Homo sapiens: one gene and its partners. The protein of the gene in region 3 interacts with the protein of the main gene of each other region in a pairwise test. Each region holds a gene or a part of one and is shown on either strand. Other genes may lie near its edges.

The links.
Region 1: the proteins of PRDM14 (region 3) and SAXO4 interact in binary tests that used the Homo sapiens proteins (3 or more experiments, as listed by UniProt).
Region 2: the proteins of PRDM14 (region 3) and GPATCH2L interact in binary tests that used the Homo sapiens proteins (3 or more experiments, as listed by UniProt).

Annotation. Positions count from the first base shown.
Region 1 is NC_000011.10:61,484,028-61,487,777, reverse strand, and holds part of SAXO4 (stabilizer of axonemal microtubules 4), read right to left. Parts: intron 3,091-3,750; coding exon 2,962-3,090; intron 2,441-2,961; coding exon 2,377-2,440; intron 1,980-2,376; coding exon 1,867-1,979; intron 1,435-1,866; coding exon 1,375-1,434; intron 1,255-1,374; coding exon 1,168-1,254; intron 831-1,167; coding exon 717-830; intron 633-716; coding exon 538-632; intron 1-537.
Region 2 is NC_000014.9:76,149,790-76,153,539, reverse strand, and holds the start of GPATCH2L (G patch domain-containing protein 2-like), read right to left. Parts: upstream 1,619-3,750; 5' UTR 1,549-1,618; intron 1,005-1,548; exon of another isoform or gene 800-1,004; coding exon of another isoform or gene 771-799; intron 1-770.
Region 3 is NC_000008.11:70,051,020-70,054,271, forward strand, and holds the end of PRDM14 (PR domain zinc finger protein 14), read right to left. Parts: intron 1,286-3,252; coding exon 1,058-1,285; 3' UTR 632-1,057; downstream 1-631. UniProt on the Homo sapiens protein: Transcription factor that has both positive and negative roles on transcription. Required for the maintenance of embryonic stem cell identity and the reacquisition of pluripotency in somatic cells.

The DNA of each region.
Region 1 (3,750 bases), on a different chromosome or scaffold from region 3:
AATGTCTTAGCAGATGCTGCTGCTCCAGACTCCCTCGCACTGCCCTGTTCTTTCCATGCCCACCAGCCTGGCCACCAATGCCCTGCATCTCTGTGGGAAAGCTACCCTTGGGATGCTAGAAGCTGCTTTGCCTGAGCAAGGAGGCACCTGGGCTTTAATGTTGCCCTGGGGATAGCCTTTAACCAATGACCGATGGATGTGGGGGTATAAATACCCCAGCTCTCTCACCTTTGACTGGGGTAGTTCTGAGTTGTGTGCTTTACACTGTTTTCTAGAGTTTTCCCAGTGGGATAGCTGGCCTAGTAACATGCTCATTATTGCTGCCTTCCCTCCCTCATCCCTCTTCTCCACTCCCACACGCCTAATAACTGCCTGATAACATGCTTGCACTCCAATCCTTGGCTTAGGGTATGCTTCTGGGGAACCCATATTCACTCAGCATTGATCTTCTCCACGAGGCTGTGAGCTCATTACTTATCCCAGTCTCAGTCTGTTTCTCAAATGGGTTTCAGCTTTGGACCAGGAAGCGGACCTCACCCTTGGTTGTAGGTGGTCAGGTATCGCTGATCCCTGTCAGGATCACAGGGGCTCCGGACATACATGGGGTTGTTAAGGCTGAACCCTGTGGGCTCCTGCACAAGAGGGGTAGACAGGGGAATTGTCAAGTCAGAAGGGGTGGGGATTTGGGGGTGGAGGCTAGGTGTAGCAAGTCTCACCTTTTTCCCCACAGTCTCCCGGCCAAGCAGGGCAACGTTTGTCTGTTGCATCCGATGAAGTGGCTGAAACTGCTGGTGACTCACGCTGCTGGGTTCTGGGCAGGGAGGGGGCACCTGCAGGGCACAGAACCACCAGAAGGGAGGCTGAGGTGGCCAGCCTGAGGCAGCAGGGATGGAGAGGGGAGCAGGCAGAGGCACACACAGCTGTGACCTGTCCACAGCCCCAGCGACCCTCCCTTCCCCTTCCAGCCAATTCTATTTCAGACCACACCCCTCATCTTCCAGCCCCCAGGAAGGCCCAGGCTCTCTTCACCCTCCACCTGAGGGCCTACCTCCACATCCCTAAATATCCTAATTCTTCTCATTCTTCAATGCCTGACCCAAATGCCACCTCTTCCCAGAAACCTCCCTGTCTTCTCCCTTCTCTGAGCAAGACGCCAAGGCCACTCACTCTGGGGTTCAGAATCCTTTCATTCCCTCGGCTGAAGGCTGTTTCCCGCTTGGAGCCTCTGGCCAACACAGGTAGGAACTCATCTCCCTGGAGGGAGCAAAGCAGCCACTGGCACCAGGATGTGGCTGCCTCCCCCACCACCTTCCAGAGCCATGTTCTAACTGCTCCCCGCCAGGCGGTCCCCAGCCTCCCCCTAGCTCAGCTTACATGTAGGTGAGTCTTGGGGAGGAAGTCTGACTTGGTGACACTCTGGCCTGGGAGGAGGGCCTGGAAATAGGCCCACAGAGGATGTCAGCCCCGCAGAGGCAGCCTGGGCCCCTGGTGGCTCCCACCCACTCTGCCTCCAGGCCACTGCTGTGCTGAGCACAGAGGAGGACTCAGCTCAAATGGGCATCACTGAGAAAAGGGAAGTGTTTGGGGAGAAGACAGGGGAAGGCATGACTCTGAATGGGACCAGCAGGCCAGGGCTCTTGTCTGAACTCTGAATGACATTGGCTACACCTCCTTCATCTCTTTGGACCTCAGTCTTCTCATCTATAAATGGGGGACTTGGACCAAAGCAGTGGTTTTCACCTAAGCTCTTTCGTCTTGTGTTTGAACAAAGGGCTCTGCAGCTCACATTCTTTAGGAAAGCTAGAAACCCTGAGACTGGAGGGCTTCAAGCCCCCTAAAGTTCTAGCAGGAGCCCAGCCGACTTACAGGGTCCCCAGGGAGGGCCTGTGAGGGCGGTTGGAAGACAATGGGGCTCTGGTGGGACTGTTTGGTGAAGCCACTCCCCTCCTTTGCGCCGATCGATTTCTTCTGCAAGAAATCTGCAAAAGAAATGCCCTGTGTGCTGCCAGGCCACCTGGCCCACCCATGTGTCCTCCAGAGGCTCAGTGTCCCAGCAGGTGCAGAGGGAGTGGATCCCAAGATCCTGGAGACCTGCGCCATGAGGATCGTGGGTGGCAGGGTGAGGATTCCAGAGTCCAGGCCGGAGGACAGGAGAGGGAGCAGCAGGAAGGGCATGCACCGGCCAAGCCACCCTCCTGAGAGGCCCAAGGTACTGAGGTCAGCCCGGGAGAGGCGCTTCCCTCCAGCCACCTGTGCATCCTTCTTTCTTCCACTGGTGCCTTCTCAGTCCTAGGCCAGCTCCAGGGCCCCTGGGGTAGCAAGTAGGGAGGTGGATTGGAAGATGGGAAGGGAGCTGTGAGTTCAGACAGGGCCTACCTGGCTGGTCTAGAGGGTCCCTGAGATACTTGGAATTGTACTCCGACGTCATGAAGCGTGGGCCCTGGAACAGAGAGGTTGGAGGAGTGGGGGCACTGACCCACCAGGGCCCCGAAGGCGTGTGGCGGCGGTGGAGTGGCGCCTCGGTTCTCTGTGCTCTGAGGAAGCCTGTGTGGGCCAGTACAGCACCCTGGACACAAGTCTCTGTGGGGTGGGACATCGCAGGGCCAGGAATTTCAGCACAAAGCACAGTTCCCCTGTGACTATGAATACCACGTCACACCCCACACCAGACTCCTGGTAATGAGTGGGGGGCCCAGAGGGACCGAGACCAGGAGGGGCCGTGAGCAGGAGGAGGAAGGCTGGGGGAAGAGGAGTAGCGTTAAATCGCGAGAAGCCACATTGAGGCTATTTTGGAAATAGCCAATATCAAATCCTTTGCTCTCCCATCTTTCTTGGCGCCCTGAGCCCACCCTGAGCTGGCTTCTTGGGTGAGTCAGTGCAATACTTGTCTTGAGGTGGGAGGAAGAGGCGGGTGTGGCCCCTCTGCCCCACCCCGAAGCCCTTAGCTGGGCTGCCACTCACATGTCGGAAGTTCTCCCGCTCCAGCGGGTCCTGGCCCTGCTGCTGGTGGAGCAGAGGCACTTCCCTGGGCTCCAGCCCCGTGATGGCCTGAGGCCCGTGCTCCTGGGTGTCGAAATGGACCTTCCGGACCTGGGAGGAAGAAGGGCCAATTACAAGTGAGGGGGCGGCAGTCACTCCCTGACTCTGCTTCTGCCCTTGACCTTTACAGAGCGCAGTATCTGCAGAGCAGCCAGAGGGGGTCCTTTTACAATGAAACCTGCATGTCCCCTCTCTGCTTAGAGCCCTGCAGCCTTCCCATCACACTCGCAGGGAATTCCACGTCCTCCTGGTGGCCTGCAAGGACCTGAGTGCCTCACCCTGCTCTAGCTGCTTGTCTCCTTTCTGTTCCCACCTTGAGGCCTTTGCACTTGCTGTTGGCACTGCCTGGACCACTCCTCCCTCAGACAGCTGCAACTGGAGGAGCTGGCCTCCCTCAAGTTTTTGTCCAGTGTCTCCATAGCAAGCTCTTTCCCGACCCTCCCGATTTGCAGTTGCAACTCCTTCGCTTCTAATTTATTTATTACTTACATTTTTTGAGACAGAGTCTCGCTCTGTTGCCCAGGCTGGAGTGCAGTGGCATGATCTCAGCTTCCTGCAAACTCCACCTCCTGAGTTCAATCAATTCTTGTGCCTCAGCCTCCCAAGTAGCTGGGACTACAGATGCAAGCCACCACACCTGGCTATTTTTTTTTTGTATTTTTTTGGTAGAGATGGGGTTTCACCATGATGGCCAGGCTGACCCAACAGCAG
Region 2 (3,750 bases), on a different chromosome or scaffold from region 3:
ACTAGGATACAATAGCAGCTGAAATGACAGGGATAGGGTGAAGTTTCTAAGATTTCTGGCCAAACTGCTTTCCAAAATTTCTTATTTTTCTGTTCATCCTCAAACCAAACATCACACTTCAGGGGTCACTTCAGAGACAAACATTTCAAGAAATGACAGTAGTAGGAGCAATCTTCAAAATTCCCCCTTAAGGGGAAATATTTAATTTGTACAGCATCTAATTAAATACATATTAAATTTTTAGCACTTTTCTCTTGCCTCTATGCCCAAAGTATTTCAAGATCAGCTTAAAATTCTAAGTGGTGCCACTCTCTGACCATATTCCCATTCATTCAGTTTTCACTTTGCAAAGGGCTTTCTAAAACCTATTTTCATGCTGTGCCTATGCCAATGAACTTAAAGACAGGAAAACAGTCCTCTGGCTTATCTGCCACACCTGTAGGAGCAATAGTGACACCTACTTCCAAAACTACCATACAAACGAAGCTTCTCAAAGTGTCCAAAAGCACATACATTTAAACAAGACCAAGTTCTTTTAAGCATTAAGAAGTGGTTTATCAACACCTGTGAAAAGAAGGGGAAAAAATGGGAAAAAAAAAAGTGGATTAAAATGCCATGATTGAGGTTTGGGAGACAACTGTCCCTAAGACCAAAATAAAGAAACAAGTGGGAACAGCATGTCAAAATCTACTTCCCTAATAAAGAATTACTGCTTTAAAAACTCAGGCAACAAAAATACAAAAAACAAAAACAAAAGAACAAATAAAAACCTCAGGCAGAACAGCACAAACTTGAACATGGAACGAAGTCATCAAACAACTTGCAGTCGAATGCCTGTGCAGAATCCTTTCCTGCCTCAAAGCCTGTAATTCCAACAGTAGTGACAAAAGAACCCTAGAACTCCCCATCTCCAGTCGCGGATGCACACTCTCGAGAGGACCCGGCGGCCAGGCACGCACCCGGGCAGAGATGAGGCTGAGTCACGCACAGGAAGGAACGGGTAGCTGGTGGACAGCAAGTAAGAAGAGAGACAGGAGCAGGGTGGAAGTGAGGGGCGGAGTAGGAGGTGGGAGAGGCAGGAGGCAACTGCTCATTTGGGCTCACGAGGGGCGGGGATCGGCTCTTCTAGGGCAGAAACTGCCAAAATGCAAGTCTTGGCGACTGAGCTCCCTCCGGGATCGGGGGTCGCAACATGGCCACATATATGACAAAAACTGTGTTTCGAAGGACTCTCCACCACGCCCCGGCCCGTCCCTGAGGGCTGGGGCGACCATGGCTCGGGACACCAAGCCCTCAGGCTGCAGCCCGCCCCAGAGAGGCAGAAAGAAGAAAGGGGAAGAGGGGGCTGTGGCCCCGGAGACGGCCCGACCCACATCCCCAGGGATGGGGACAAGGGCCCTGAAAAGCAAGGCCCCACCACCCTCACCCTCCGGCCGTCTGCCGCAGCCCCAAGACGCCCTTAGCCGCTCAGCCGCGGCTTGGCGCTCCGATCCCCTCTGGTACTAGCCCCCAGGACCCCAACACTCTCAACCCATTCCTCCCCCTCACCAGCTGCCGCAGCCACCTCCAACGGCCGCCGCTTTTTGGGCCGACTCTCACCGCCGGGGCTTCCCTCTCTGACCTCATTTCCGGTCTGGGCCGGAGGGGTGGGGCGGTGGCGAGTGGGAGGGGCTGGCTGCACGATTGGGCCCCTGACCCAGTGCTTCCGCCCGTGGCCACACCCACTTCCGCCCCGCGGTGGGCGGAGCCACAGGAAGCCAGGAGATGGGGCAGGGGACAAGGAGGGGTGTTGAATAGGGTCTGGCCGGGAAAGGGCGTCTCAGGGGTTGAGGTGCCCCACGTGGGGAAAGACCCCTGCATGCTGGCCTCATCTTCCTTAGGGGCTTCCAGAAATTGGGCGCTAGGCAGGGATGTCAGCTTATCTCTTGCTTTCTGACCTTTTTAATGGGTCTGTGAAGTTGAGGGGAAATGGATCTTAATGACGTCTACCCTGTGAGCTGGTACAACCTTTGGAAGAGGTTGTTTTGCACTGAGTTACTCAGAACATTTCAAATTGCCTTGAGCAATAAAACAAGTGATATTGGATTATAACTCAAAGTACAAAAGAAATATTCATGAGCCCATGCCGATATAAGTGATTGAATAAATTAACGAATGAGGAAGAAGAGATAAATCCCCCACAGAAGAATCTCAAATAACTTATGTAGACAGCCATCCTGCAGCATAACTTCTGCCTCCTTAAATGTGGGCTGTGCATAGTGACTTCCTTCCCAAAAGTACAACATCTGTAAAGGGGAAAATGAGTGATTTTACAGGGGAGAAACCTGGCAAACAGTAATTCAGCCAGGTGATCAAGACTATGTGCTAAATCATGTTGATAGTATGTGGAATGATATATGATGAGAATGGCACTTTATGGTACTTTCCTTCCAAATCTCATAACCCAGTCTAATTATAAGAAAAAAAAATCAGACAAACCCGAATTGAGGGACATTCTGCAGAGTGCATGACCAGTATTCTTCAAAATTGTTAAGATCAGCAAAGGCAAGGGAAGTCTAAGAAACTCAGAGCCAAGAGGAGCCTAAGGAGGCATGACAATGTAATATGGTGTCCTGGGTGTGACGCTGCAATTGAAAAAAGAACATTAGGTAAAAACTAAGGAAATCTGGATAAAGTATCAACTTTAGTTAATCATAATGTATCGGGCCGGGTGAGGTGGCTCACGCCTGTAATCCCAGCACTTTGGGAGGCCGAGGCAGGCGGATCACCTGAGGTTGGGGGATTGAGACCATCCTGGCTAACAGGGTGAAAACCTGTCTCTGCTAAAAATACAAAAATTACATGGGCATGGTGGCACGTGCCTGTAATCCCAGCTACTCGGGAGGCTGAGGCAGGAGAATCACTTGCACCTGGGAGGCGGAGGTTGCAGTGAGCCAAGATCGCACCATTGCACTCCAGCCTGGTCTACAAGAGTGAAACTCCGTCTCAAAATAATAATAATAATAATAACGTATCAATATTGGTTGCAATTGTGAGATGTGTTATACTTCTGTAAGAGTGAATAGCCTGGTGTGGTGGCTCACACCTGTAATTCCAGCACTTTGGGAGGTTGAGGTGGGCGGATCACCTGAGGTCAGGATTTCGAGATCAGCCTGGCCAACATGGTGAAACCCCGTCTCTACTAAAAATACAAAAAATTAGCCAGGTGTGGTGGCACATGCCTGTAGTCCCAGTCCCTACTCAGGAGGCTAAGGCAAGAGCATCGCCTGAGCCCAGGAGGCGGAGGTTGCAGTGAGCAGAGATCGAGCCACTGCACTCCAGCCTGGGCGACAGAGTGAGACTCAGCCGTCACAAAAAAAAAAAAAAAAAGTGAATAATAGGAGAAAGTGTGAATTACACAGAAACTGTAACAATCTTCATAATTTTTATCTAAACCCAAAATTATCCTAAAATAAAAAAGTTTATTTAAAAATATGCACATACCTTGGACCCTGAAATTTTGCCCCAAAGAATTGTATTCTAAGGAAAAATTGGAAATGGGCGCAAAAATGTTAAATATAGGTAAATCATCTCTGCAGCATTTCTGAGGGAGAGATGAGGAAACTAGAAAAAGCCAGAAGTTCTACAACAGGGGTTAGTTAACTAAATTATGGTACATCTATGGGTGGAATATCTTGCAACTTTTAAAAATTAATGTTGCAAAAGAATATTTAATGACATGAAAAGCCATCGACTTATGATTGTGTACAT
Region 3 (3,252 bases):
CACTGACTATTCACAGGTGTGATCATAGAGCACTACAGCCTCAAACTCCTGACCTCAAGGGATCCTCCTGCCTTGGCCTCCCAAGCAACTGGGACTACAGGTTTGTGCCACCACGCTTGGCTTTAAATTAATATTTATTTATTTAGTGGGGTTTTTGTTTGTTTTTGTTTCTGCCAAGTGCACAGTATGATAAGCGAATTTTTAGAGGATTTGTTCTAGGCCTGATGCAGTGGCTCACACCTATAATCCCAGCACTTTGGGAGGCTGAGGCCAGAGGATCAGTTGAGCCCAGGAGTTTGAGACCAGCCTGGGTAACATGTTGGGATCTGCCTCTCTGTATAAGAATCTTTTCTATAAAGAAATGTAACACGTGATGACCGCATTGTATAATTGGGGGCCCAAGGCAAATAGTAGAGAAAAAGCTACCTTTTTCTCAGATCATTGCAACCTCCGCCTCTGGGTTCAAGCAATTCCCCTCCCAAGTAGCTGGTATTACAGGCATGTGCCACCACACCAGGCTAATTTTTGCATTTTTAGTAGAGACGGGGTTTCACCATGTTGGCCAGCATGGTCTTGAACTCCTGACCTCAGCTGATCCGCCCATCTGGGCCTCCCAAAGTGTTGGAATAACAGGCGTGAGCCACCACACACAGCCAACTGCAGGGACTTCTATAACCCATAAAAGGAAATAGAGAGAATCCGAATCTCTTGTTTTTACATTGTCTCCACACTCTTGAGGGCTACTCATTTTTTTTGTTTTGTTTTGTTTTGAGACAGGGTCTGGTTCTGTCACCCAGGTTGAAAAGCAGTGGGGCGATCTCAGCTCACAGCAACCTCCGTCTCCTGTGCTCAAACCATCCTGCCACCTCGACCTCCTGAGTGGCTGGAACCACAGGCATGTGCCACCACCCCCAGCTGATTTTTGTATTTTTTTGGTAGAGACAGGATTTCACCATGTTGCCCAGGCTGGTCTCGAACTCCTGGACTTGAGTGATCCACCCACCTCTGCCTCCCAAAGTGCTGGGATTACAGGCGTGAGTCATTGTGCCTGGCAGGGCTAGTAGTCTTCATGAAACTTCATGTGGGAGTAGAATGTTTCTTGATCTGAGAAGATTTTCCCACAGATGCTGCATGAGCAGCCATCATCCTCCTTGTGTGAACGCCGGACATGGCTGTCATGGGCAGCATGGGATGCAAAAGATTTACCACAGTACTTGCATTTGAAGGGCTTCTCCCCGGAGTGCTGCCTGATGTGTGTGCGGAGTATGCTGGAGGCTGTGAACCTCTGCAGAGAACAGAAATACAGAACACAAGAAAAAGTCAACTTCCACGAGCTGGACAACCAATTAAACTAAGGGGTAAATTTCACTGTTGCTCATCCTTATGGACGAACCTTGGGTTTTAAGGCCATAGAGCACTCCTGGTCATCATCAGTAGCCTTAATCCGAAAGGACTCCACTGATGTGTCCTTCTGGCTAGTTTTGAGAAGCACTGGATGTTAGAACAGTGGTTCTTCAATGGCTAGATTATCTGGAGGTCCAGTTTGTAAAAAAGCAGATTGCAGGCTGGGCGCAGTGGTTCACACCTGTAATCCCAGCACTTTGGGAGGCCAAGGCAGGTGGATCACCTGAGGTCAGGAGTTCGAGACCAGCCTGGCCAACATGGTGAAACCCCATCTCTACTAAAAATACAAAAATTAGTCAGGCATGCTATCGTGCACCTTTAATCCCAGCTTCTCAGGAGGCTGAGATGGGAGAATTTCTTGAACCCAGGAGGCGGAGGTTGCAGTAAGCCGTTATTGCACCACTGTACTCCAGCCTGGGTGACAGAGTGAGACTCTGTCTCCAAAAAAAAAAAAAAAAAAAAAAAAAAAGCAGACTGCCAGCCTGGGCAACATAGCAATACCTCACCTCTACAAAAAGTAAAAAAATTACCTAGGCATGGTAGCATGTACCTGTGGTCCCAGCTATTTGGAAAGCTGAGGTGGGAGGATAACTTGAGCCAGAAGGTCAAGGCTGCAGTGAGTTATGATGGCACCACTGCACTCCAGCCTGGGTAACAGAGCAAGACCCTCTCTTTAAAAAAAAAAAAAAAAAAAAAAGCAGATTACCAACCCCACCCAAGAGAGTGTGACCCAATAAATCTGACATGAGACCCAGGAGCCTGCATTTAAACAAGCAATTCTGATGCATGTGGGTCCTAGGATCATACTTCAAGACAAACCTCATTACAGAAAGAGAAGCTAATATCGACCAGAAGCTAATATCGGCCAGTGTCTTTGCATAAGTCAGTGCCTTACTGGTTTTCTTCTTCTTCTTCTTCTTTTTAATTTAAACTTTTTGAGATGGTTTGTAGGTTTGTTTTATTTGTTTGTTTGTTTGTTTGTTTTGAGACAGAATCTCACTCCATCACCCAGGTTGGAGTGCAGTGGCACAATCTTGGCTCACTGCAACCTCCACCTCCCAGGTTCAAGCGATTCTAGTGCCTCAGCCTCCCAAGTAGCTGGAATTACAGGTGCACTATGATGCCCAGCTAATTTTTCTATTTTTAGTAGAGATGGTGTTTCTCCATGTCGGCCAGGCTGGTTTCAAACTCCTGACCTCAGGTTGATCCACCCACCTTGGCCTCTCAAAGTGCTGGGATTACAGGTGTGAGCCACCACGCCCAGCTCAGTGGTGTTTTTCTATGCCCATTATTTTCATTCTATTGACACACACTTTGGAGGTATTAGTTGCTCTAATCTGGTAGACTCAATGTTTTATTCCTTTTGAGAGGCTTAGAAGTAGCTGTAGGACAGCCTCTACTCCTTTTACGGCTTTACTGTAAAAAGCGTAAATGACTCAGTGACTGAAAACATAATCTATACCAGTGCTTTCCAACAGGACTTGCTGCAATAATGGGAATATTCATTACCCACGCTGTCCATCTTGGAAATCAATGGCCACATGGAGCCATTGAGCACTTAAAATGTGGCTAATGCAACCTAGGGAACGGAATTTTTCAACTTTACTTCGTCTTTACTAATTGAAATAGCCACATATGATTAACCGCGAACTGCACATTGGGTAGCATAGAGCTATTTTGGTGTAATATGTCTAAAGCGTGGTCAACCTATTGTTTCTATTATAGCAACCTCTAACCACATGATTCATCTCTGTTTTTACAACTCTGTATTCTGTGTAACATAGACTAGATGCCGCTTCTGCAATGCTCCTATAGAAAATTACATCAGTAGCATCCTTCACAGATTAA